Linked DNA regions of Homo sapiens. The protein of the gene in region 3 purifies or fractionates together with the protein of the main gene of each other region. This does not show direct contact. Each region holds a gene or a part of one and is shown on either strand. Other genes may lie near its edges. The genes, in order: SLC2A1, KCNIP2, STK17B, UBA52, SDAD1, FAF2 and UBAC2.

Region 1 (3,500 bases), on a different chromosome or scaffold from region 3:
ATGGTCTCGATCTCCTGACCTCGTGATCTGCCCGCCTTGCCTCCCAAAGTGCTGGGATTACAGGGGTGAGCCACCGTGCCCGGCTCCAACTTTTCTATTTTTAGTAGAGACAGGGTTTTGCTGTGTTGGCCAAGCTGGTCTGGAACTCCTGGCCTTAACCAATCCGCCCGCCTCGGCCTACCAGAGTGCTGGGATTATAGGTGTAAGCCACCGCGCCCAGCCTTGAGGTTCTTTCTTTTAATGCCCAGAAGTTCATTTAAATGAGTAAGAAACACAACAAAACAAATTAAAAGGGAGCTGTCATGGATTCAGGTAAACCCCTCCCCCACTCCTTTGAGCCGTGGACTAAGCAGTTGGAAAGCCCTGCGTCCCCTGCTTCCCTGCACCTGGGGAACCCATGTGGGATGCTGTGGGAAGAGGACAAGATGGAGCAACATCTGGAGTCTGCCAGCCCTGGGACCCTCCTCTTGCCAGGAATACCCTGCCTCTGAGTAGCAGTAGCCACGTGCCCTTCCTGTGCCAATATAGATTGAGAACCTGCTGCAGGCCAACCCTGGGGCTGGAGCGCAATGCTGACACACTGACATGGGTCAAAAGGCCACAGTGTTTGGCAAGTTATACAATGTGGCCAGGGCCATCTGGCATCCGAGCGTTGGGGGAGAGGTCCTGAATCTTAACACCTCATCCATGGCTTCCTGGGAGAGGGAGGGCTCTTGTGGGTCGTGAGACCCCCAGCGGTGGGATAGGGAGGGTGAGGGGTGGGGACATGAGAAATGCTTCTCTGTGCTGGACCCTGAGCCCAGTTGCTGGCCAAGCTGGGAGGCCATGACTCTCCTAGGAGAGTCAGGATTTGAACTCAGTCTGCCTGACTTCAGAGGTCCTTCCTTGACAGCCCTGTGGGCTTGGAGTGGAGGGTTTTGTGGGGTGCTGTATTTACCTCTCAGAGCTCTGATGTTCCAGCACTCGTCAGGGGTTTGATAAATGGCTAAGGATGAACACTGGTCTGGCACAACAGATACTCACAGAGCCAGCTTTGCCCAAAAGCCAAATTGAAAAGTGGCAGGTTTCTTTGTTTGGCAATTAGCATGTGCTGTTCCCTACTCTCGTCACTCTGGCTGCAGACACGGTATGACCCAGGTTCCATTCCTTTTTTTTATCTCACTCTGTTGCCGAGGCTGGAGTGAAGTGGCATGATCTTGGCTCACTGCAACTTCTGCCTCCCAGGCTCAGGTGATACAGATGTGTGCCACCATATCCAGCTGTTTTTTTTTTTTTTTTTTTTTTTTTGTGTGTGTGTGTGTGTAATTTTAGTAGAGACCTGGTTTCACCATATTGCCCAGGCAGGTCTTGAACTCCTGAGCTCAAATGATCCGCCCACCTTGGCCTCCCAAAGTTCTGGGATCACCGCGTCCTGCCCCTGGTTCTATTCTTAAGGAGTTCCCAAACTGAGTGGCAGATGGGTAATAAGCTAGAGACTGCAGAGGACATAGCAAGAGCAAAGGCCTGGAAGAGAATGGAATGTTCTAGAAAGTAGTCTCATCCCCAGGGAGTGCTGATGGGCTGCTGGGGATCCCAGACTCTGGGCTGTACATTGCTCCCCACCAGTAAAAAAGGCTCCCACAAGAAAATCACAAGCTCTATGGGGCTAGTACCCTTCTCTAAGTCATCACCAACTGTTCATCAGCTTGACACCAGAATAAATAAATACACGTTGAGTGAATGGACTTCATTGCCATGTTCCAGTTCTAGCCACTGGCTGGTGGGGGCAGATGGTGCTGAGGCTGCCCGATCGAGGGTAGCTTGCTATTCTTCACCGATCCAGCAAACACTTGTGGAGGGAATTCTGCCAGGCTTCATGATGGATACTGATAGAAAACGTAACAGCAACCCTTTAAGGAAGGAACTTTCATCCCCGTTTTCTAGGTGAGGAAACCAAGGCCCAGAGCAGGGCTGCCTTGTATCCAACTCCAAGGTGAAAGGAGGCAGCTTGCTGCATTTAAACGTGGGTCTGCTTCCAAGCCCAGCAATGATCAAGCCGGCTATAGTGGGCGCAGCAGAGTGGCAGCATGAATCTGAGATTGGTCGCAGTGTCTTGTGCCTACTGAGGAGCAGGGGCCATGTCCCTCCCCCTACACCTAGCACTGAGCCACACTGAGCACGCTGTTTCTTAATCTGACTGGTCCCCATTTCTTCTCCTTGCACATACTGTTCTGTCCACCTGGAATGTAGCCTTGCCACTGCTTTCCCACTTGGCAGACTCTCTGTGTGTCCTTCACAGCCCAGCTCCAATGTCACCTCCTGGGAACTCATCTTTTTTTGTACCCAGGCAAAACTGGAAATCTTTCCCTCCAGGGTTCTCACAGTGCCTCATACCAGCCCCCTGTTGAAGCCCAGACCACACTAGCCTCTCATCTTCATCTGCCTCCCCACTGCCCCCACCCCACTGTACTGGAAACTCCTTCCTTGGTGTCAGGACTGGGTCCAGTTTCATCCGGGGCCCCAGCTCTACTTAGCATGAGACCTAGAGCATGGGTCACTGGTATTTTAGTCAGTCCTAGTGCAGCAGCTGCCTGGGTGGATGTGGATATGACCCAGGGAGTGGGTAGGCAGGTTTTCTAAAGTCGAGTTTGACCTCGACCTGCTGATGACAAGGTCCAGCGGAGGGGTATGTCCTTGGCCTCCAGCAGCCCCCATTGACAGAGGCTACAGTCGAGCAGCTGCTCAGTGGGGCCCCAGGGATGACTTCAGAGGCTCCAGACCCCTGGAACATCAGATGCAGACCTCAGTAAAACAGGGCCTGTGATAATAGCACTTACCTCACATAGCCAGTGTCATTCACTCATGCTCTACCAACATAATTTTTGCCAGATCCATGGATCATTTGTATTATTTTCCACTTAATGTTTTTATTTAAATTGCTTTGTTCTAAGTAATATGAAATCACAGGGCTTGTAAAAATTATTTTGAATAGGTGATTCCATTCACACCATTCAGAATTCAAAAAAGTGCCAAAGGCTATAAAATGAAATCTCCCTTTCACCCTGTCCCCAGTCACCCAGGCCCCCCCGGGGTTAGAATGTTACCTTTCTTGTACATTCTTGTTTTTTGTTTTTTGTTTTTTTTTTTTTTTGAGACAGAGTCTGCTCTGTCGCCCAGGCTGGAGTGCAGTGGCGCCATCTCGGCTCACTTCATCTCCCAGATAAAGTGATTCTTGTCCCTCAGCCTCCCAAGTAGTTGGGACTACAGGCACGCACCACCATGCCCAGCTAATTTTTGTATTTTTAGTAGAGACAGGGTTTTGCCATGTTGGCCAGGCTGGTCTCGAACTCCTGGCCTCAAGCTGAGATTATAGATGTGAGCCACCGTGCCTAGCCTCTTGTGCATTCTTTTAAATAGATGTGTATATTCTCCCCCTACCCCCAGCCAATTTTTTTTTTTAACCCAAAAGGTAGCATACAATATACACACTGCTCTGTTTTTGGTTTCGCTTTTGTTTTTTG
Region 2 (4,064 bases), on a different chromosome or scaffold from region 3:
CGCGGCCTTTCCCCTCGGAACCGCACTGCCCAGCGGCCCCGCCGGGCTGGGAAGACCTGAGGGATTAGACAGGGGTCCGGGCGGGGCTCGGACTGTTTTTTGTTTTGTTTTGTTTTCCTAAAGAGTCTCTCCCAGCTCCCTTTTGAGCTTGGGGTGGGAGTGGGGAAGTAAAATGTTCGGAGGTACCCAGGATGCCCTGAGGTGTAACTTTCCAGCTGCTTCCCTGCAAGCCTGATGGGCCGGGAAGACGGGAGCTGCAGACTACCCTAAATCCGATCCCAGGAATCCCAACTGCAGGGAAGGGGAGGCGAAGCCTGGCGCGCGCTTCAGCACCGCGGACAACGACTCCCCTTCATGCTTCAGCTTAGGCATCTCTCAGCGCTCAGAGCTCAGCGCCGCCCGCCCGCCCGGGAGTCTTCGTTGACACTGGCGTCCCAACCCGATTTGTCTCCCGCTATAAAATAAGCCGCCCTTCGAGAGGAGAGCTCCTGGTAGTCCTATTTCTACTTTCCAAGTCGTGTGTGGAGCTATCTACAGCTAGGCTGCTGTAGACCCGGACCACAATTCTTGATACTTGTCAACATTTGACCTTTCCATTTTCCTTGGGAGGTAGGCAGGCAGGCAGGAAGTAACATTCCCTTTTACAGATGAGAAAGGTGAGGCCAAGAGAACAAAAGTCACATAGCTGGTACACTTCCATTCCTGACTGAACTGGGGCAGGGCATCTCCAAATACAAATGCTTCCCCCACCCAATCTCATTCAAATAGCCAAGTGGGGAAGGGATGGTTTCACTAAGGGTGAGAACCCATTAAAGCTGGAAGCAAACACTGACTAATGTGATACTATTGAAGGCCCCTAGGCCCTTACTACTCTCAAGAATCCTAAGCTGGTGATGGGAACAGAATTCATGGAAGAGCTGGACAGTGGGTCCTTTGGATTCCATCCAGCTCTGAGGCACATCTGGCATGGTCTCTCATCTGGGGCCAGCCTGAGTGGCTCCCCTGATCCTGACTAGGGCCTCCCTAGGGACAGTGATGGGGGATGGGGGAAGACACATGCTCAAGGCACCTCATCCTAGTCCCCTCCCCCTTCCCAGGTCTCAATCTCACTCCCCTCAGGAAGGACAAGGATCATGGCCTCCCTCCACCTCCCCAGCTTTGTTTTGGCCTCAGGGAGACAGCCTCCCTCCTCCCACTCTGCTGGCTTTCTAGAGCAGGCTGCACAATGAGAGACACAAACACATACATGGAAATGTACCCAGGGTGACACAGTCACCTACACAAACACATGGCTCTTCCTACCAAACCCAGGAACATGCACATGCACAGATGTACTGGCCTCACATACCTCCCCATGTGGGAAAGAGAGGATGCCCGGGCAGCCAAGTGGTTTGGTGGACATGCAGGACACCACATGGCACTTCCCAGGCCTAGAGCTTCTAGCTCTGTCTCTGGAGGGGAAGGAAGAGGATGTGTTTTCCTGGGGTTTGAGTGAAGTTCTGAAAGGTTTGTTGGGGGTTGAAGGATTCAGTTGTAAGAATAATCTCAGTACATGATTTGGTGTGGGGAGAGAGGGCTGACCCAGCACTAACTAAAGCCTCCCTACAGGGGCCAGGTGCTGGAGCCATAAGGTCTCTTGGAAACCAGACTGGGCAGCTGAACACTAAAGTCCCTCCTTGGGTCCACCTGGGCTATTTGTGGAAAAATTGGTGAAGGAGTGGGGTGTACTAAAGACCCCTATCTGTACCAGGAAGCCAGAGAGGCAGCAGGGATGAGACACGTCATAGACACTCACAGAGCCCCGCTGCAGACATCACCACATGAAAGTACACAACTAGCACTGAACACTAATCTCACAACCACAAAACACAACACAACCTACTTTAACAAATTCTTGCCCAGAGGGCTTATGGTCATGAAGGCTTACAAAGAGACAAGCCACCCTAAAGTAGAGCCCTGACACATTCTGGTAGTTACACACCACTTCATACAGAATTACACACTCACAACACATCGTTGCACATAGAGACACATGGTCAAAACAACTTCATCAGTACAACCAGGGTCCTACGCAAACTCAAACATCTGACGAGACCATACAATTGCACTGCCACATACAATCACACTCACCCTAGCTGTCACCAAGCCCAGGGCACATGGCAACCAGCTGTGGGAGGTGCGCGCGCACACACACACACACACACAGAATGACAGGTGCTCACGCACGTAACACCTCCCACTCCAGACACCCTCTCAGCCCTGTGTCACATACGCCCACACCTGCTGCCTCTCCACACCTGCCTCTTCTGTTCCTCCCCAACCCCTGCGGGACCCAAGGCTTTGAACCCCCAGTGTCCTGCCGCCCAGACCGGCCATAAGAGTGCCTGGGAATGGGGCAGAGTGTGGGTGCGGGCCAGGCCGGGGTCGGAGAGGCGGAAGGGTCTGGAGGAATGGAATCCACCCTCCCTCCCGCGACCCCCACGTCACTGACTCACCCGTGAGCTGGTCGTAGGAGCCGTCCAGGTCTCGGGAATCGGACAAACTCTCCTTGCGGCCCTGGCCCCGCATGGCCCCCGGCGCCCCGCTCCCGCCCGGGCCGTGGGAGGGGGCGCCGGGTGGCCGGGATAGGGCGCTCACACGGCGCCCCCTGGCGGCCTACTGTGCTGTCGGGGCTGGGGAAGTCCGGGCTGAGGCTGAGTCTGGGAATGGGCCCGGGGTCTGAGGTCTACCCGGAGGTCCTGGAGCAGGAGAGGGAACACTAGGCAGCAGGTGAGCGCAGAGCCGGAGGCAGAGCGGAGCTGAGCGCGGAGCCGAGCCGAGCTGCCTCTCTCCTCCCGCCCCCTCCCCGCGGCTGTCACCGCCTCCTCCCCTCTTTGGCGCTGCCGGGATTGGCTCCCCCTACCCCCGCCCCCCACCCTTTGCAGCCCGGGGGAGGCACCCGGTGAAAGGGTGAACTGCAAAGTGCGGGGAAGGAGACTAGCTCCCCAGCAATCTGCCCCTAAAGCAGAAGTCACGGGGCTTGGCGGGGGGGGGGGGTGGGGGAGGAGGAGAGCGCGGGACAGAAGAGCCCCACTGAGAGGAGGAAACCCCGCCCCCAATTCTCAGGCACCCCGTCCCCCTTCGTCAACACAGTTCTGGCTGAGGCAGAGCCTGGGGTATCATATCTGAGTCCCCGCTCCGTTTGTCTCCATGTCAGCCTGTATTTTCTCTGTTGTTCCTCCTCCCGTGTATGCGTCTCTCGTGGTCCCAGACAGTCCCCACCGTGCTTAAAGCAGGTTAGGGATGCAAAGGAAGAGTCAACCCAGCCTCTAATATTAGCAGGCTCATCGTGGGCCAATGGACTACTGTTTCATCTTCTCTCAAGTTCCAGAAGGACCCCAACTCTCACCCACTCCAGGACCCCGTCTCTGGAACCTATTCACTCTCAGGGTGCCTCCTTCACTGATCTAATGAACCCCATAGGCCGACTAGGAAGATAAAAAAACTAGTGAACCAGGTCAGTTTCTCAAGACATCCTTGCTCTTTTGTTCCTCCCCTGCAGCAACTTTTCTGCCCTTCTCTTTTGTCACCTGTCCTGTCCTAGATTCCTTGTTTTCCAGCAGATATGGGGAGCAACTGACAGGTTTGGGGATCCAAGTCAGGATACAGAGTAGGAAAGAAATGCCCTTGTTATGAAACCCCTTCCTTAAGATTAGCTCCTTTCCAAAGGCAGGGCTAGCACGGAAGCTGGGCTGCCTCATCTCCCAGGAATGGATCCTGAGTGTTTTGAGCGTCACAGGTCTGACCTTCCTCAGGATGCTTCCTGGGCTCCACACCCAAAAGCCCCCCAACCCGTTGCTATGAGGATGAGGGGACCTTGTCTGGTGGGTCCAAAGGAGTGACCTGTTAAGACCAAAAACTTTAAAGTGACTCAAGCACACTTAATCTCTTCAATTGGCTTTAATTTCCAACCACTTGATTTAATCAACCCAGCAGGAATTGTGGCGGGAGTTCAGGCCTAAGAGGGGGACAAGTGGCTGAGGGTAAGATTGTCTTTAGGAGCAATGCCCTGCGCTTGGATCTCC
Region 3 (4,076 bases):
GTAACTTTATAAGAACATTTCTTAACTGAAATATTCAAAGAAATAGCCTTTGATAACAGCCCAGCATAGAATACAAACTACAGTACTTAAACATAAAATCACTGAATTTTGTCATCAATATTATGAAAAACTAAAGCAACTGACATTTGAAGTTTTCCTAAGTGGAAAGGTAGTAGATAAATGACTGCTAATGTTTCTGACAAAACAAATACCCATACAGTGCAGAAGATTTCTTTATGAAAAGAAGAATCAATCAGTATCCTTTAAAAGTAGTAAGCCTAGGAATACTATTTTTTTTTTTTTTTTTTTTTTTTTTGAGACGGAGTCTCCCTCTGTTGCCCAGGCTGGAGTGCAGTGGCGTGATCTCGGCTCACTGCAACCTCGGCCTTCCGGGTCAAGCAACTCTTCTGCCTCAGCCTCCCGAGTAGCTGGGACTACAGGCGCGCGCCACAATGCCCGGCTAATTTTTGTATTTTTAGTAGACACGGGGTTTCACCATATTGGTCTCGAACGCCTGACCTTATGATCCGCCCGCCTCGGCCTCCCAAAGTGCTGGGATTACAGGCTTGAGCCACTGCGCCCGGCCAGAATACTATTCTTAACTGCCAATCTTACATACAGAAAATGTGAATTACAATATACTATGCATGCAATTTTAAGGCAATTTAACGATTAAGTGAAAGTGTTATTAACTGAATTCCTTGACTTCTTGTGTCTCTAAAATTAAAGCAAAAATATTTTCATAAGGAAATTCTCCCTTATAATTATCAAAGAGCTTTAAAACATGTTAAAATGTTCACTTAACAAAAGTAAAACAGAGCAAGCTTAAAAATAAAATTATCTGATTAGAAACGTCAGCCATAAAAATGCTTGTATCTTCTTCAAATTTGTTACTCATATGCTAACACAGCGATTAGTCAAACCTCCAACTTCCTAAAAACGCATTCTATCTTAACCAAATCGTAATTCACTAATCAATGATCCCAAGAGAAACCGCAACCATTCTATTCACACACAAAAAAGGATGGTCTTCAATTACAGAAATTCTACTTTTAAAAAGTCTTGCCATGTAAGCAAATATATTTCACCTCAATTTTGGATCCCTACTTTAGAAAAAAAAAAAGATCTAAAATGTACAATATGTATCTCAAAAATAAAACATCTATTAATACCTCCAATTATTAAGATACTAGAAAAAGTTTAATTGAGCATCTGCTCAGAGGAGGAGGATCCGAGGCAGATGAGTTTAAAACTTTTGCACCGCTTCTATGGACCAGTTTTCTTAAAAAATACACAATCCTAGGGGTACACGGTCTAATATTTATAAAATAAGCACTTGTTGAAAATTACTTCCGAACAGTTCACCATAAAACTAAAAAACAGTGTTATCAATGAGAAAGTAGGTTTATTTTCCTTTAATAAAATTGTGCTCCTGGGTTCAAAATGCCAGGTTACATACGCTGCCACTCATTTCTACAGAGCTATGCTGTCTCCGCGCAGACATTCTCATAGACTTGAAAACGTAAAGTGGCCACACCACGTCAAACGTCCCTGGCAAGGTTCTGCTTATCATTAGCACCACAGATGTAAACATTACGTCGACAAAACAATCGGTGAATGTGATACACAGTCCTCATGTGTTTAAATATTAGTGAAATCTGATAAGTATTACGATTTTAAAAACGTATTTTCTTAATTCCAATTTCCAAATTGATGTCAGAGTGCCTCTAGTCCAGACAGAAACTAATGCCAGCTACCAGCTGCTATAAAGCCTCTTTCAACTTTGTCTCTACTTCTCCCTCGGAGGAAATTCAAATGAAACGCTTTTCCCTACAATAAAACAAAGAGCCTGGGTAAATGTCAAAAATCGTTGGCATCCAGTAGTGGTATAGTTTGAGGATGAGTCGTGCACACTAAGTGGGTCACAAGGCATCAAAGCAAAAATCAGATCGCTGAAAATCACGGAAACAGCTGTAGCCCGTCTTGATCTCTCGCTGGTTTTAAAACACTGTTCCCAAGCAGTAACTGAAAACGTCCCACAAGATGAACACGAACTTTCTCTAGACGAAAGGCAGCTGGGAGCAGGACGCGTCCACGAGTCCCGATGGGAACGCGCCCACGCCGCAGCTGGGACTCGGGAGAGGCTAGGGGGACCGCGTGGCCTTGCTGTGGAAGGGACCCGCGCGGGCCCGCCGCGAAGGGGGCCCTGCCTGGCGCGACCTGGGGAGAGCCGGGGCCGGCCGGGTGGAGGGCGCACGGGGACACACGGACACGCACAGACACAGACACGCGCCCCGGGCTGAGGAGGGTGGTGGGAGGACCGCCGGCCGCCCCCCGCGCGGAGCCCCAGGGAACCCGGACTCCAGCCGCAAAGCGGAGAGGCGCCAGCAGCAATCAGCCACCTCAGGGGCGGCGGAGTCCAAGCCCCTCTCAGCCGGACCGTACCGCCTAAACCCTCCTCGGGTCCTCCTTCCTCACGTATGAGGTCTCTGTACCGAGGCGGCTGGTTCCATCGCAGCCCCGAGCCAACCCGCCAATCCCGCAGGACACTAACCGCTCCGGCCGCCGCAGGTTCTCCCGGGACTGCCCCCTCCAGGGGGCCGCTGTCCCGCCCCACGCCGGGGGCCGCCACAGGACGAGTTCTCTAGCTCCAGCCGGGCGAGGCGCCAGGGAGCTCCGAACGTGGCAGGATCCACTTTTACTTTTCCAGACAAGGGCCGACGGTTGTGACCTGGCTTCTCGTGAAGTGACTCCTGGCGACAGCAGCGGAGAGGACTACCGAAGCTTGCAGTCGCGGTTTGAAAACTGCAGCCGCGTCTGGGGCATCGCCGTTCGCCAGATCCCTCCCCCTAGGTCGGGAGAGCCAATCGGAACGGGTGCGGAGGGTGGGTCTGTCACGTGACGGGAGGGGCGGGGCACCGGCCGGGGGCGCGTGTGCGGGGCGGGGCCCGGCGGTGAGAGGGTGCGGCGCCTGGCTGGCCCGAGGCGGGGCGGGGAGGCGCGGCGGCGTGGCGGCGCAGGTGGGGCGCACTCGGGCTGCCGCGAGGGAGGGGCGGAGGGGGCGGCGCTGCAGAGGGGGCGCGCGGGGCTGGAACTACTGCTCTGTGTACTCCTTCCCACCTTCAGAGAGGTCAGTTCGAGAGGTGTGAATATCCGGAGACCGGGGAGAAGGAAGCCGCAAAATTCGTCCCAGCTGCCTGCGACTAGTTACCAAACTTCAGTGCCTACCAAAGACCTATTTTCTGACTCTTCTTGAGAGTCTTCCTTAGGACCGGAACGTACCCTGTAAGTGGAGAACCCAGTTTGCTACAACTTGGCAGAGGTTCCTCGGAGTGTCAACATCAGTTGGGGATTTATGGAACCTAGACCCCACTGCTAACGTCCGCTGTCGCGAATGGTGTCCCTTCTGAGGCACTGACTGAAGGCAGTGTAGGGAGGGTCCCAATAGGCTGAATAGCCGATTTTGCATTTATAGTGCTAAGGAAAAAGATGAAAGCCCTCAGCAACCTACTCAAGATCTGTTATCCTTTGAAGACAGTGGAAATTTTCAAAGTTCTGTGCAAGACACAAATGTTTTACATAGATATATAATCCTAGTTTATATGTATAGGATACACACATACTCATACATATATGGGATTAGTTATGTAATCTAGGATTGCTTTCAGAGGACATTTACGATAATTGCAGAAAACCCTTCCGTGGGAAAGGATACTGGGAGTGGAGTCGTCCTCTTGCTTTCAAAAGACTTAATGTTCAGTTAGCATATAAAGGACAGGTTTTCTTGTTCTATCCCAGTAAGCCAAGCAAATTCCTGTGAAGCTAGCTGTTTCCCTTTCCTACTGCATTTTCCCCAAGATAAAGGTATAGAATGCATCACAGCCCTTTTATGAAGTCTGTTTGTTGTTACTTAGGTTAACTCCTCCTCCCAGGTTAATAATGTCTTGCCCCTAAACCTTGTCAAATGGAGAATATTGCTTCCATCTATCTAATTTCTTGTTGCTAACAATTGGGCTGACTAGAGAAGCCTAAAGTTAGGATGAAAATAAAATGCCACACACTGGAATTAACTTTTC
Region 4 (4,054 bases), on a different chromosome or scaffold from region 3:
CCGGATTCAAGCGATTCTCCTGCCTCAGCCTCCTGAGTAGCTGGGATTACAGGCACCCGCCACCACACCTGAAAAATTTTTGTAATTTTTTTTTTCTTTTTTGAGACGGAGTTTTGCTCTTGTTGCCCAGGCTGTAGTGCAATGGCACTCTCTCGGCTAATTGCAACCTCTGCCTCCCGGGTTCAAGCGATTCTCCTGCCTCAGCCTCCTGAGTAGCTGGGATTACAGGCATGCGCCACCACGCCCAGCTAATTTTGTATTTTTAGTAGAGATGCGGTTTCTCCATGTTGGTCAGGCTCGTCTCGAACTCCCGACCTCAGGTGATCCGCACATCTCGGCCTCCCAAAGTGCAGGCGTGAGTCACCGGACCCAGGTCCCGCCCTGGCACTTTTTAACCACCCACAAATCTGGATCCTACACTGAAAAGAGACACTGCAGTGGCTCACGTCTGTAATCCCAGCACTTTGGGAGGCCAAGGCGGGCGGATCACCTGAGGTCGCGAGTTTGAGACCAGCCTGACCAACATGGAGAAACCCCGTCTCTACTAAAAATACAAAAGTGGCCAGGCATGGTGTCGCACACTTGTAATCGCAGCTACTCGGGAGGCTGAGGCAGGAGAATTGCTTGAACCCAGGAGGCGGAGGTTGCGGTGAGCCGAGATCGCGCCATTGCACTACAGCCTGGGCAACGAGAGCGAAACTCCGTCTCAAAAAAAAAAAAAAAAAAAATCCTGAGTCCCGCTTGACACCTTTTGTCAGGCACCACCACCTTTCTGGGCGAATGCGGTAGTACCGTCTGCTCTCCCTGCTGCTGTCCTGAAATCCATTCAGGCACAGCGGCCGAGAGCTTTATAATAACCGATTCCAGGTGTTAGGTGCTTTCCCAGCCCCGACTCCTGCGTCCTGGACCCGCAGTCCTCTGCTTAATACCTTTGCTTTATTAGAAAACATTCTCCTCTACTCCGTTCAGCTATTCGCTGAGGGCCCGCCAACCGCCAGCGGTTGTCAGTGGCCTAGAGGCAGCGGACGCAAACACGGGGAGAGGTGCAATCGTCTCAAGTGACTCGGCGGGCGGGGCCCACAACCGGAAGCGGGTGGGCGACCTTCACCCACGTGCGCTGCGGCTTCGTTCGCCAGCATCCAAGATGGCGGCAGGGCGGGGCCCAAGGCGCGGCGCGAATTGTGACGCAGGCGTCCGGCGTGCTCCGTGCGCAAGCGCTTTCGGCGGCGATTAGGTGGTTTCCGGTTCCGCTATCTTCTTTTTCTTCAGCGAGGCGGCCGAGCTGGTTGGTGGCGGCGGTCGTGCGGGTTCGCGCCGGGCCGAGAGCGGGTTGGGGGCTGCGGGAGGCTGCAGGGGCCTGGGCGGCAGAAGAGGCGGCCCTGAGCTGGCTCATGCGGGCCAGTCTCGGCAGGGTGGCTGGGCAGGGCTCGCGAGGCCACGGCTCGGAGCCCAGACCGGGGCCCAGGAGGCGAGCGCCGTTTTGGAGAGGAGCCTGCCTGCTCTGCCTGCCAGCGTGACCCCACGAGGCCTCGGGCGGGAAGAGGTCCTCGGGGCAGATCCGAGTTAATGAGAGAGGGGTATTGAGCGTGTAGCGTTAACTCTGCCAGTCACTGCGTCAGTCGCTTTGGAAATACTAAATTTCTCGAGCTGAGTCTTCATACCTGGCTCCATTACTACGTCTGTAAGGAGGAGCTGGTGGTAGTGTCTGCTTTTTAGACTTTTCTTTAGACTATTTGTATTTTTTTCAGATGGAGTCTTGCTCTGTCGCCTAAGCTGGAGTTCAGTGGTGCGGTCTCGGCTCACTGCAATCTCCACCTCCCGGGCTCGAGCGATTCTTCTGCCTCAGCCTCCCGAGTAGCTGGGATTATAGGCGCCTGCCACCACGCCCAGTTGATTTTTGTAGTTTTAGTAGAGACGGAGTTTCACCATGTTAGCCAGGCTCATCTTGAACTCTTGACCTCAAATGATCCGTCTGCCTCGGCCTTCCAAAGTGCTGGGATTACAGGCATGAGCCCCTGCGCCCGGTCGATTCTTTGTCTTTTTAAGTCAACTTTTATATGTGAACAATGCTTGGCAGGTGGTTGGTAGATACTAAGTGATGTTCGTGGTTTGGGGTCAAGGCAAGAAGTGGGGTCTGGAGAGTTTTGGTGTAATTGAGAAGGAAGCTAAGAGTGTTGGGTGCTCCAGCTTGGAGTTAGAGAGGAGAGAGGCTGCGACAGGAAGGCATGTGTGTTGTAGGGGATGGCTTCCCATCCAGGCTGGCAGCAGGAGCAGCCTGTGCAGATCAGGACCTGGCTGCCGTGGAAGAGGGTGGGACCGCCTTCAGGGAAGATGGATCTAGCAAGATGATGCCAAAGGGTACTTATTCCATCAGGAGATACTGACGAGTCCTTCCGCCGCTAAACCTAAGGAGAATAACCACAGTCTGTGTTCCTGAAGAGCACCCGTGCGGTCAGGAGGGTGGAGGACATGTGGTCTTTAGTTCCAGGACATGTTTAGACTACAGGCCAGGGTGTGTGAGAAGCCTAGCAGGGCCAGGCTTGGAGGAGTGAAAGGAAGACAGGTACTGGGGCAGGACCAGTTGGACTTGGTGCAGGCAAAGGGATAGCAACTGTGGTGTAGGCACCTGAGCTTGTGCTACTCAGGCATGCATTGCTCACCAGTCTATCCTGCCTCCCTTCCTCCTGCAGACGCAAACATGCAGATCTTTGTGAAGACCCTCACTGGCAAAACCATCACCCTTGAGGTCGAGCCCAGTGACACCATTGAGAATGTCAAAGCCAAAATTCAAGACAAGGAGGGTGAGTAGGGCTGGGTGTGGGGGCTCTGGCTGTGAACTGGGAGTCCCTCTCTGCCCAGGGGAGTCTCAGTCCTGTGTGGGTTGTGCTGACTTTAGATCTGTTTTGCCCTTGCTTCTCCATGTGATCTGAAGAACGTTTGTTATCTTCTACCTCAGTTGGCCTTTTGAGAAACTGGGGGTAGTGCTGGAGCTCCCCTGCAGAGGACACTGCCAGTAATATGGTCCGCAGAGCCTCTAACTGAGCCTCCCTCCCCCTCAGGTATCCCACCTGACCAGCAGCGTCTGATATTTGCCGGCAAACAGCTGGAGGATGGCCGCACTCTCTCAGACTACAACATCCAGAAAGGTACCGGGGTTGGGGTTGCTGGGCAGGGACCCAAGATCCCCAGGTCCTAGGAAAGGAGCATTGATGGCCTCAGGGGTTGGGGAGCAGTTCAAATGACTTGTGTTTTGTTTAAAATAATGGGACTGGGCACAGTGGCTCATGCCTGTAATCCCGGCACTTTGGGAGGCTTAGGCGGGTGGATCACCTGAGGTCAGGAGTTCAAGACCAGCCTGGACAACGTGGTGAAATCCCGTTTCTATTAAAAATACAAAAATCAGCTGGGTGCAGTGGCTCAGGCCTGTAATCCCAGCACTTCGGGAGGCTGAGGCGGGCAGATCACAAGGTCAAGAGATTGAGATCATCATGACCAACATGGTGAAATCCCATCTCTACTAAAAATACAAAAATTAGCTAGGCATGGTGGTGCGTGCCTGTAGTCCCAGCTACTCAGGAGGCTGAGGAAGGAGAATTGCTTGAACTCGGGAGACAAAAAAAAAAAGTCATAATGTGAATTTTTTTATCACTGCAATAAGGAAATTAGTGTCACTTGTGGGAGCGACAAGAATTCAGTGTCCTTTTTTTGTGAGACAGAGTCTTACTCTGTCACCCAGGCTGGAGTGCAGTGACGCGATCTCACTGTGACCTCCGTCTCCCGGGTTCAAGCGATTCCCCTGCCTCAGCCTCCCGAGTAGCTGGGATTACAGGCACCCGCCACCACGCCCAGCTAATTTTTTTTGTATTTTTAGTAGAGACAGGGTTTCACTACGTTGGCCAGGCTGGTCTCTTAAAGTGCTAGGATTACAGGCGTGAGCCATGGTGCCCCGCCTAGACTTCAGTGTCTGACCTTGCCTGAACCACTTAGAGGTCGGCTTCCATGTTAGAAACCCAGATGGATGCCTCAGTTGGCATGTGTCAGTCTCAGACTCCCC
Region 5 (3,500 bases), on a different chromosome or scaffold from region 3:
TCAAACTGACTGTCTAATGGGTAAGTTTACTAATTTAAGGCATTATAAAAATGACAAGTTGTGATTAGGATTCTACATGCATATGAGATTTGAATGACTAGAAGAAATCATCTCAAAAGGTTAAAGAGCATCCTGTAGGGTTAGTGTGCTGGAAGAATAGAAAGATCACAGTGTAGCTGAAAACAATATGATATCAGAAACACAGGCTGGAAGCAGATCATGCAGGCACTTTTGAGCCAGGTTATTAAGTTTCCGTTTTACTCTAAGTATAAATGAGAAGCCATAGAAGGATTTTTAGGAAAGGATAATACATTATAATTTACGTTTTCTGAAGATAATTAGCTTAGAGGCTGTTCTCATTTAAATATATATGAACGCAGCACACATGAACACAGCACAATTTATTCATCCAACTACTGGTCCTACCATTCGCAGATCTGGATCCAATACGGTATGATTGCAGGAGAGAAGATCTTTCACCTCTTGAGGAAAATTACTTAGGTACTCTGGGTAGCAGTGACTAATCTGTAACAAAGCAAAGGCTCTTCTGAAGTTGCTCTCTTTCTCTCCTATAATTCAGATGCATACATTTAGGATGTTCTGCAAAACGAGAGTAAAAGGCTATGTTTCATAGAAGTAGATGGTTCCAAACAACCTTCTTTTCCTTCTACATGTTAATTTCTCCAACATTTATCATGGTTTCTCTAGTCTTAGTAATATTTATGGCATGATTTAGTACCTGCTTTTATGATGAATTTGAAGAAAAAAAATAGTCTTAAAGTTTTGTCCTGGTTAGTTATGCAAAAAGATCTAGTGACATTCTCTAACTCATGATAGGGAGAAAATAAAATTTGCAAAAAGGGAAAGTTAGAAAAATATTTTAATTAAGTTCCCATTCCAGAGTGGAATAAGGTTGAGTATTAGTGAAAAAACATTCAGCAAACTGTGTGTTAATACTGGTCTTTATTTAAGCAATTATATTCTTACCTGTGCCATAAACATCACCAGCTCTGCTAGTTCTTTGCTGGGTTTATTTGGTTGCAATTTGAAAATCTCCACATTGGATTTGTAGTGATTATACTGCTGTAGAAACTGCAGAAAAATAAAATTTAAGTTTGTCACATTGTATTACATGACTTTCTCAGTACAGACATTCAGTAGAGAAATTCTTAGTAGAAACTGTTGACGATCACATGGAGAAAAAGATAATGCAAAAGTATATAAAAACACTCCTTTTGCCTTATCTGCATTCTTCAAAGTGCGCTTTTTAAAGACCTGAGCACATCACAGATAATCTAAAGAACTTTTCCTTGGAATTATCACTACAAGTTTAGGCAGCATGGTGTAAGAACAGAGAAGCATGAATCCCAAATTCAGATTGTAGCCCTGTTCTGCCAGTTACTATCTAAATGATCCCGACTGCTGGGTGTAGTGGCTCACACTTGTAATCCCAGCACTTTGGGAGGCCAAAGTGGGAGGATCACTTGAGCCCAGGAGTTCGAGACCAAACTGGGTAACACAGGGAGACCTTGTCTCTACAAAAAATACAAAAATTAGCAGGGTGTGGTGGCGTGCACCTGTAATTCCAGCTACTCAACAGGCTGAAATGGGATGATCACTTGAGCCCAGGGAGGTTGAGACTGCAGTGAGCTATGATCATGCCACTGCACTCCAGCCTAGGCAACACGGAGGCCCTGTCTCACAAAATAAAAATAAAAATAAATGACCCCTACTACCATATCCATGTATGCAGAGCACTCAAATCAGCAGAAAAATAACAGGGCAGAAATATAAATTATATCTCAAGTACATGAAGCTCTCCAGTCAAAATCCCACCCCCCCACTGCCACCCCTTTTTAAAAATTATACTTTTAAGTTCTGGTATACATGTGCAGAATGTGCAGGTTTGTTACACAGGTATACATGTGCCATGGTGGTTTGCTGCACCCATCAACCTGTCATCCACATTAGGTATTTCTCCTAATGCTATCCCTCCCCTAGCCCCCCACCCCAACAGGCCCCAATGTGTGATGTTCCCCTTCCTGTATCCATGTGTCCTCACTGTTCAACTCCCACTTATGAGTGAGAACATGCGGTGTTTGGTTTTCTGTCCTTGTGATAGTTTTCTGAAAATGATGGTTTCCAGCTTCATCCATGTCCCTGCAAGGACATGAACTCATCCTTTTTTATGGCTGCATAGTATTCCATGGTATATATGTGCCATATTTTCTTTATCTAGTCTATCATTGATGGGCATTTGGGTTGGTTCAAAGTCTTTGCTATTGTGAATAGTGCTGCAATAAACATATGTGTACATGTGTATTTACAGTAGAATGATTTATAATCCTTTGGGTATATACCCAGTAATGGGATGGCTGGGTCAAATGGTATTTCTGGTTCTAGATCCTTGAGGAATTGCCACACTGTCTTCCACAATGGTTAAACTAATTTACACTCCCACCAACAGTGTAAAAGAGTTCCTATTTCTCCACATCCTCTCCAGCATCTGCTGTTTCCTGACTTTTTAATGATTGCCATTCTAACTGGCGTGAGATGGTATCTCATTGTAGTTTTGATTTGCATTTCTCTAATGACCAGTGCTGATGAGCTTTTTTTCACTGTTTGTTGGCCGCATAAATGTCTTCTTTTGAGAAATGTCTGTTCATATCCTTTGCCCACTTTTTGATGGGGTTTTTTTTTTCTTGTAAATTTGTTTAAGTTCCTTGTAGATTCTGGCTATTAGCCCTTTGTCAGATGGATAGATTGCAAAAATTTTCTCCCATTCTGTAGGTTGCTTATTCACTCTGATAATAGTTTCTTTTGCTGTGCAGAAGCTCTTTAGTTTAATTAGATCCCATTTGTCAATTTTGGCTTTTGTTGCCATTGCTTTTGGTGTTTTAGTCATTAAGTCTTGCCCGGGCCTATGTCCTGAATGGTATTGCCTAGGTTTTCTTCTAGGGTTTTTATGGTTTTAGGACTCTTGTTTAAGTCTTTAATCCATCTTGATTTAATTTTTGTACAAGGTGTAAGGAAGGGGTCCAGTTTCAGCTTTCTGCATATGGCTAGCCAGTTTTCCCAACACGTTTTATTAAATAGGGAATCCTTTCCCCATTGCTTGTTTTTGTCAGGTTTGTCAAAGATCAGGTGGTTGTAGATGTGTGGCGTTATTTCTGAAGCCTCTGTTCTATTCTATTGGTCTATGTATCTGTTTTGGTACCTTAAAAAAAAAAAAAAAAGACTAGGTCTCCCTCTGTCACCCAAGCTGGACTGCAGTGGCACAATCATAGCTCACTGCCACCTCAAACTCCTGGGCTCAAGAGGTCCTCCTGCCTCAGCCTCCTAAGTAGCTGGGACCACAGACGTTCACCACCATACCCAGCTGATTTTTCATTTTTATTTTTTGTAGAGACGGGATCTCTTTATGTTGCCCAGGCTGGACTCAAACGCCTGGCCTCAAGTGATCCTCTCACCCTGGCCTCCCAAAGTGCTGGGATTACAGG
Region 6 (3,500 bases), on a different chromosome or scaffold from region 3:
TGAGGCCAGACGTGGTGGCTCATGCCTGTAATCCCAGTACTTTGTAAGGCCAAGGCAGGTGGATCACTTAAGGCCAGGAGTTCAATACCAGCCTGGCCAACATGGCGAAACCCCATCTCTACTAAAAATACAAAAATTAGCTGGGCGTGGTGGCACGTGCCTGTGGTCCCAGCTACGCAAGAAGGGGAGCTGGAAAGATGGCTTGAGTCCAGCAGGCGGAGGCTGCAGTGAGCCAAGACTGTACAATTGCACTCCAGCCTGGGCGACAGATACTCTGTCAAGGAAGAGAAGAGAAGGGAGAAGAGGAGTGAAAAGAGAAGAGAAAGAGAATAGAAATATTATTCTGGAAAAAGTAGGAAGGCTGAATTGAGAAGACTTTAAATGTGGGCTACCAGTTATACAAGTTTAGTCCAGAGGAGAAATGAAGTATAAACTGAGGCAGTGGCAATGCATATGACAAGAGGGTTAACTAAGGACTGTGACTTTTTGTGACTTTAACTCCAATAAGAATTTACAAACACACATTTAAAAATATTCCCCAGTATTTAGTATGAAAAATTGTTCTCTTTCAAATTTATTCCAGGACTGTGAGAAAGTTTTCATAATTTCCTTGGTGGAAAAGTCCAAGGCCCACACACAGGCCCCCCAAGTGTTCACGGTGATTTCTGCTATTCATCACTTCTGGCACTCTCACTAACAGTAGTATTAAACACACACACACACACACACACCCCTGAAAACAGTTCAAATCAAATAATCAGTTTTATGACTATTTCATTTTTGATACTAATTTTAAGCAAAAATACAATGTTGGAGAAACGACAACTAGAATCCTTGAATATGTGAAATAATCCTCAGATGGTCCAAAATAAAAATGACAAAATTAACGTTTATGGCCGGGCACAGTGGCTCACGCCTGTAATCACAGCACTTTGGGAGGCTGTGGCAGGTGGATCACCTGAGGTCAAGAGTTCGAGACCAGCCTGCCCAACATGGTGAAACCTTGTCTCTACTAAAAATACAAAAAAATAAGCCAGAAGTGGTGGTGGGCGCCTATAATCCCAGCAACTCTGGAAGCTGAGGCAGAAGAATCACTTGAACCTGGGAGACAAAGGTTGTAGTGAGCCAAGGTTGAGCCATTGCACTCCAGCCTGGGGACAACAGCGAAACTCCGTCTCAAAAAAACAAAACAAAAAATACTAATCTTTATCAATACCCATCTCAAAGACCTACTTCTAAAAGACTATCTGCTGTAAAGGTAATCTGTTACTCAGAGTAATCAGAATGTATACTACTTTGCAAGGTTCAGAAATATTCCTCTTAAATACTTAGAGGAGTTCATAAATATCGATGCCCAGCCCACTCTGAAAAAATAACGCATTTTGAACCAACTTGATAATAAGTGTCTGTACTTGTCAAATAAAGAAGTACCCCAAAAAAGGGAGGCCAGCAAACACTACTGAGTAAGTATGTCAAAACCTTTCCAAGATATAACTATGTTCTTGAACAGATTCAGCAACATAAAGATGTCAACTACAACCCCTGAAGTTCATTTACAAATTTCATAAAATTTCAACTTTAAAAAGTTGATTTCAAATTTCTTTTAGAGGAGCAAATAAACAGGAAAACTCTGAAAAAGAGCAACAGAGTGGAGGCAGGGGTGTTCCTCCAGATCAAAATATATCATAAGCCTCTATAATTAAGTGTTATATTGGCATATATAGGGGAAGACCAGTGGAACAGAAATTCCAGTTGAGGCTGGGTGCAGTGGCTCACACCCGTAATTCCAGCACTTTGGGAGGCCAAGGGGTGGACTGCTTGAGCTCAGGAGAGTTCCTGTTTCATTGCTGTTTTAATTTGCAATTCCTTAAGGACCTCAAATCCTTAAAGATTTGAGCATCTTTTCATATGCTTACATGCCATCTGTATATCTTTTTTGGTGAGTTGTCTGTTCTGATCTTTTCCCTACCTTTTGATTGAGTTGTTCATTTTAAGTTTTAAAAATATATTTTGGGCCGGGCACGGTGGCTCACGCCTGTAATCCCAGCACTTTGAGAGGCCGAGGTAGGCGGATCACCTCAGGTCAGGAATTCAAGACCAGCCTGGCCAGCATGGCAAAACCCCATCTCTACTAAAAATACAAAAATTAGCCGGGTGTGGTGGCACACACCTGTAATCCCAGCTACTCGGGAGGCTGAGGCAGGAGAATTGCTTGAACCCAGGAGGTGGAGGTTGCAGTGAGCTGAGATCACACCACTGCACTGCAGCCTGGGCAACAAGAGCAAAACTCTGTCTCAATCAAACAAACCCAGTCAGTCTTCATGACTACTTACCTATGCTATGCAGAGTTAAGTATAATATAATCATATCTCTATAAGACAAAGACAGAAGTTCTCTTACCCAATGAGAATGAGACCCATAACTAATCAATTAACTGAAGTCAAAGTAATAAAAATATTCATTTTAACATTTTACATGTTTTCATTTTTACATAAATGAATATTTATGTAAATATTTCATTTTAACATAAAGTACTCACATGAACATAAGTTTCTGATAAAAGCCTATCGTTTTCTTTAGGGAATGAATCCACTAGCACTCCTTGGAACTTCTTTAGTTTTTATTTTTAGTTTTTTGAGAGGGAGTCTCACTCTGTCACCCAGGCTGGAGTGCACTAGTGCGACCTTGGCTCACTGCAACCTCTGCCTCCCAGGTTCAAGCAATTCTCCTGCCTCAGCCTCCTGAGTAGCTAGGATTACAGGCACCCGCCACCAAATCTGGCTAATTTTTGTATTTTAGTAGAGATGGGGTTTCACCATGTTGGCCAGGCTGGTCTCAAACTCCTGGCCTCAGGTGATCTGCCCACCTCAGCCTCCCAAAGTGCTGGGATTACAGGCGTGCACCACTGTGCCTGGCTATTTTTTACTTTTTTTTTTGAGACAGGGTCTCACTCTGTCACCCAGGCTGGAGTGCAGTGGTGCAATCACAGCCCACTGCAGCCTTCACCTCCTAGGCTAAGGTGATGCTCCCACCTCAGTCTCCCAAGTAGCTGGGATCACAGGCCCACAGGCATGCGCCACTACGACCAGCTAATTTTTTTGTTGTAGTTTTAGTAGAGATGAGGTTTCACCATGTTGCCCAGGCTGGGATCTTTTTAGCATAACCCATACTGATTTGATTTCCTTAAGTGTAGTGCAACCTTAAACACTTGCCAAGCAGTAAGTGTACAATGTTGTATCTCAATGATTTCTCCCTAAGTCATTTACAGTTAACTTGCCCACACCTAACTAAACAACAATTTTTTTTTTTAGCAATTTCCCCAGACAGAGCCTGTTTAAAGCTTTTAATTTAGTTTTCGTATCGATGAAAACTCTTTTTGCACTGGTATTTTACAGGTTTATGTAGTGTTTAATTAAACACATGTGACAAACATAACCAGCACACACTAGTTTGGGAGCAAATATAACTGCCTCTTGTCAGGAATACAACTTGACTGGTGA
Region 7 (3,500 bases), on a different chromosome or scaffold from region 3:
GGAACATTTTGCTGTCGTAGCACAGACCGGACATCTAGAAGAAAAACGTCCAATGTGATTGTTTAAATGTAGTATTATTTTAAAAAATGTACACGACTCAAAAATCAGCAGCCTCCAGACACTGCACACGGTATTTTTCTTAGTCATAGCAGTGTTAGGCAATAAGCAAAATCCTCTACCACACTGCAGAACACTAAGCAGTGCAAATCAACACAAAATTGAACTTAGTAAAACAAAATTGTTTTTTATTGAATTAGAAGAGCTAGCAAAATTCTAATCATTTAGTATTCAAAGTTCTGGTAAAAGATTGTCAAGACACTGTCTTCATTTTTTAAAAAGCCGTAAAAGATCTGATTATTGAAACACTTTCACACTGTACTGACTCTGCGGTTACCTTTGTTGGCAGATGGCCATCACAGAGACACCAGCAGAAAACAACTGCCATGTCTCAGCTGACCCAGTCACACGATCAATTTATCAGAGAATAAACACAATCTAAAATCTTGGTTTTTATTTACATAGTGTTTTAATCAGTTTTTCAACTACTGATTTTTCTAGACATTTAAAATCCTCACCAATATTAGTTCCATTTATAAACCAACCTTGTCTTCATCTTGAAGGTCATTTATAATGTATGGTTACAGAAGTCTCAAGGCTTCCTATGATTTTCTAGTTAAAAATGACTATGGCTATTCCTTTGTAAAAAAAAAAAAATCTTGATGTGAATTTGATTCTTAGGATTAGAAGATCAGATTAGAACATATTTGACAACTTTCTAATATGAGAAAAGTATACTTCAATGTTTAAAAATAAAATTTAAATTGATGAATTGGCAAGAATTCTTTGAGACTGTGCTACACACCAGGCACTGTTCTGGGAACTTAGAATACAGCAAAGAACAAGATAAGCAAGGCCCCACTCTCACAGGGCTTATAGCAGTCAATGTGGAGAACAGGCAGTAATCAAGTCAACACATAAAACTATTTCTGGCAAGTTCTGGGAAGGAAATAAAGTGACATGGGGCACGAACCTACTCTGGGGGCAGCGGGGGACATCAGGAGAGCCCTCAGAGAAAGTGATACTTGAGCGAAGATCTTAAGGATGATGCGGTGCCCGTGACTTGATGAACTGGGGAAATAACATTTTGGGCAGAGAAAGCAGCAGATGCTGCGCAGCCCGAGCTTGGGAGTGTCTATTAGATATCTTGGGGGGCTACTGAGTGGGCAGGTGGCTATGTAATTCTAGAACTCAAGGAAAAGGTCGAGATAAGGATTTCAGAGTCACTGGATATGATATGACATTTAGGGTAACAGGACTAGAGGAGATAAAATGGGGGGGAGGAGGAGACACAGCAGAAGAGAGAACAGGACTAAGGACTGAATCCAGGAGTGCACAAATATTCTATGGACAGACAGAGTAGGAAACGCCAGTAAGGAAATCTGAGACAGGGCTGCCAGTGAAGAGAAGGGAAATAGAGTTTAGTTATCACTGAAGCTAAGAAGTGTTTTAAAATAGGGATGGTCAGCTATATCTAATGCAGCTGATAAGTAAGACAGAACTAGCCACTGGATGTTGCAAATGGAGGTGTTTGATAAACAAGGTGTTTACAAGAACAGTTTTGGTACCAAAGACAGACTGTAGTAGGCTGAAGAGTGAATGGTGGACAACTTCTGGTTTCAAATAATTTCTGTGCCCCTTTACTCAAAAATAGTACAAGACAAAGAAAATGAAAACAGAAACAAACTCCAAGGTCCATGAAACCAGAAACTAATCCTGAACCATGCTAACAAAATAGAAAGCTTATCAAGTGATTATAAACCACTCTGCATATAAGCAGCATATAAGTCCAAATGCCTGCAGAGAGTCCTGTGGGACTCAGAAAAGCACAGGGACTAGAGCAAGCTTGTTCAACCTGAGGCCTGTGGGCCACATGTGGCCCAGGACAGCTTTCAATGTGGTCCAACACAAATTCATAAACTTTCTTAAAACATTACAAGGTTGGGCGCAGTGGCTCACACCTGTCATCCCTGCACTTTGGGAGGCCAAGGCGGGCGGATCACAAGAGGTCAGGAGTTTGAGACCAGCCTGGCCAACATGGTAAAAACCCGTCTCTACTAAAAATACAAAAATTAGCCGGGCGTGGTGGCACACACCTGTGGTCCCAGCTACTCAGGAGGCTGAAGCACAAGAATCGCTTGAACCTGGGTGGTGGAGGTTACAGTAAGTCGAGATTGTGCCGCTGCACTCCAGCCTGGGCGACACAGTGAGACTCTGTCTCAAAAAAAAAAAAAAAAAAAAAAAAAAAAGAAAAAAAGAAAAAAAGTTAGGAGATTTTTTTGCAATTTTTTTAAAGCTCATCAGCTATCTTCAGTGTTAGTGTATATTATGTGTGGCCCAAGACAATTCTTCTTCCAATGTGTCACAGAAGAGTTCAAAAGACTAGATACCCCTGGACTAGAGGGTCTAGGCCCTGTGGAAGGAGGAGAGAAGTAGAGGGTTACTTAAGTCTGGGTAAGAGGCACCCCAGTTCCTCCTCATGCTCCATGTACCCTTTCTCCCCTCCACAGAGAGAAGGGAAAAGCTGTGTAGGGCATGAACCAAGGAGGGTCCATGTGGGTTGGGAAGGCCAAGGCCTCTGCACAGGCAGATTATGTGCATCTCATGCGGCTGTCAGCATAGGGGTTCCAGAAGAAGACAACAGAGGGAATATGGGGGAAAGGATATTATATTTAAAGAGATAAACAGCTGAGAGTTTTCTAGAATAAAGAAAGAATATAAATCCTTAGGATGAAAGGGCAAGAGTCCCTAAAAGAATGCTAAAACGAAATTTACATCTAGATCCACTGTGGTGAAACAAAAGAAAGAAATCCTTAAAAGCAACCAGGGATAAAATACAGACTGTTTAGAAAGAAAAAATAAACTGTTAGCAAATAACAGCAAGAAAAACTGTAAGATAATTGGGAATAAATAAATAATATATATATAAGGCCTTGACAGAAAAAAAAGAAAAAGATAATAAGGGATATTTTTTCAAAACCAACCCTAGTGATAATAAAGATACCAGTTCCATGAATAGGAAGATGCAAAACTTTTAAGATACCAATTTTCATCAAATTAATACATAAATTAAATATCATTCAAAATAAAATCTTAACAGGGTGTTTTGTTGGAATGTAAATGCCAAGCCTCAAATTCATGCGGAATATTTAAGGTTTGCATTTTAAAAACACCATGTTGGGAGAAAGAAGCCAGACCCAAAGCCTGAAAACACGATTCCACTTCTGTGAATGAATGAACCTAAACCACACACTAAGCAGTAAAACGAGACAGGAAAGCGCAAAGATGATGACTATGTGTGCTAGGAGGGGTCACAGAAGGGAGGGAGAAAGAAGGGGAAGGGGTCACAGGAGGGAGGTGGGAAGGAGGAAGAGAGGTGGGAAGGAAGGGGGGCACCATGGGCTGCGGGGCTGGCCAGGCATGGTCTGTACCTGCATGGTGGA

What was found.
Region 1: the proteins of STK17B (region 3) and SLC2A1 purify together in Homo sapiens (affinity purification with mass spectrometry; one large-scale study listed by BioGRID and IntAct). This does not show direct contact.
Region 2: the proteins of STK17B (region 3) and KCNIP2 purify together in Homo sapiens (affinity purification with mass spectrometry; 3 studies listed by BioGRID and IntAct, with this or other methods). This does not show direct contact.
Region 4: the proteins of STK17B (region 3) and UBA52 purify together in Homo sapiens (affinity purification with mass spectrometry; one large-scale study listed by BioGRID and IntAct). This does not show direct contact.
Region 5: the proteins of STK17B (region 3) and SDAD1 purify together in Homo sapiens (affinity purification with mass spectrometry, with the first as the bait; one large-scale study listed by BioGRID). This does not show direct contact.
Region 6: the proteins of STK17B (region 3) and FAF2 purify together in Homo sapiens (affinity purification with mass spectrometry; one large-scale study listed by BioGRID and IntAct). This does not show direct contact.
Region 7: the proteins of STK17B (region 3) and UBAC2 purify together in Homo sapiens (affinity purification with mass spectrometry; one large-scale study listed by BioGRID and IntAct). This does not show direct contact.

What each region holds. Positions count from the first base shown.
Region 1 is NC_000001.11:42,945,369-42,948,868, reverse strand, and holds part of SLC2A1 (solute carrier family 2, facilitated glucose transporter member 1), read left to right. Parts: intron 1-3,500. UniProt on the Homo sapiens protein: Facilitative glucose transporter, which is responsible for constitutive or basal glucose uptake. Has a very broad substrate specificity; can transport a wide range of aldoses including both pentoses and hexoses.
Region 2 is NC_000010.11:101,841,001-101,845,064, forward strand, and holds the start of KCNIP2 (A-type potassium channel modulatory protein KCNIP2), read right to left. Parts: upstream 2,801-4,064; 5' UTR 2,569-2,800; coding exon 2,496-2,568; intron 1-2,495. UniProt on the Homo sapiens protein: Regulatory subunit of Kv4/D (Shal)-type voltage-gated rapidly inactivating A-type potassium channels. Modulates channel density, inactivation kinetics and rate of recovery from inactivation in a calcium-dependent and isoform-specific manner.
Region 3 is NC_000002.12:196,168,779-196,172,854, forward strand, and holds the start of STK17B (serine/threonine-protein kinase 17B), read right to left. Parts: upstream 2,801-4,076; 5' UTR 2,555-2,800; intron 1-2,554. UniProt on the Homo sapiens protein: Phosphorylates myosin light chains. Acts as a positive regulator of apoptosis.
Region 4 is NC_000019.10:18,570,603-18,574,656, forward strand, and holds the start of UBA52 (ubiquitin-ribosomal protein eL40 fusion protein isoform 1 precursor), read left to right. Parts: upstream 1-1,254; 5' UTR 1,255-1,307; exon of another isoform or gene 1,308-2,005; intron 2,006-2,237; exon of another isoform or gene 2,238-2,345; coding exon of another isoform or gene 2,346-2,358; intron 2,359-2,690; coding exon of another isoform or gene 2,691-2,698; coding exon 2,699-2,801; intron 2,802-3,059; coding exon 3,060-3,146; intron 3,147-4,054.
Region 5 is NC_000004.12:75,980,946-75,984,445, forward strand, and holds part of SDAD1 (protein SDA1 homolog), read right to left. Parts: intron 1,093-3,500; coding exon 988-1,092; intron 601-987; exon of another isoform or gene 526-600; coding exon 427-525; intron 21-426; exon of another isoform or gene 1-20.
Region 6 is NC_000005.10:176,454,885-176,458,384, reverse strand, and holds part of FAF2 (FAS-associated factor 2), read right to left. Parts: exon of another isoform or gene 3,388-3,500; intron 1-3,387. UniProt on the Homo sapiens protein: Plays an important role in endoplasmic reticulum-associated degradation (ERAD) that mediates ubiquitin-dependent degradation of misfolded endoplasmic reticulum proteins.
Region 7 is NC_000013.11:99,336,854-99,340,353, reverse strand, and holds part of UBAC2 (ubiquitin-associated domain-containing protein 2 isoform 1 precursor), read right to left. Parts: intron 35-3,500; coding exon 1-34. UniProt on the Homo sapiens protein: Restricts trafficking of FAF2 from the endoplasmic reticulum to lipid droplets.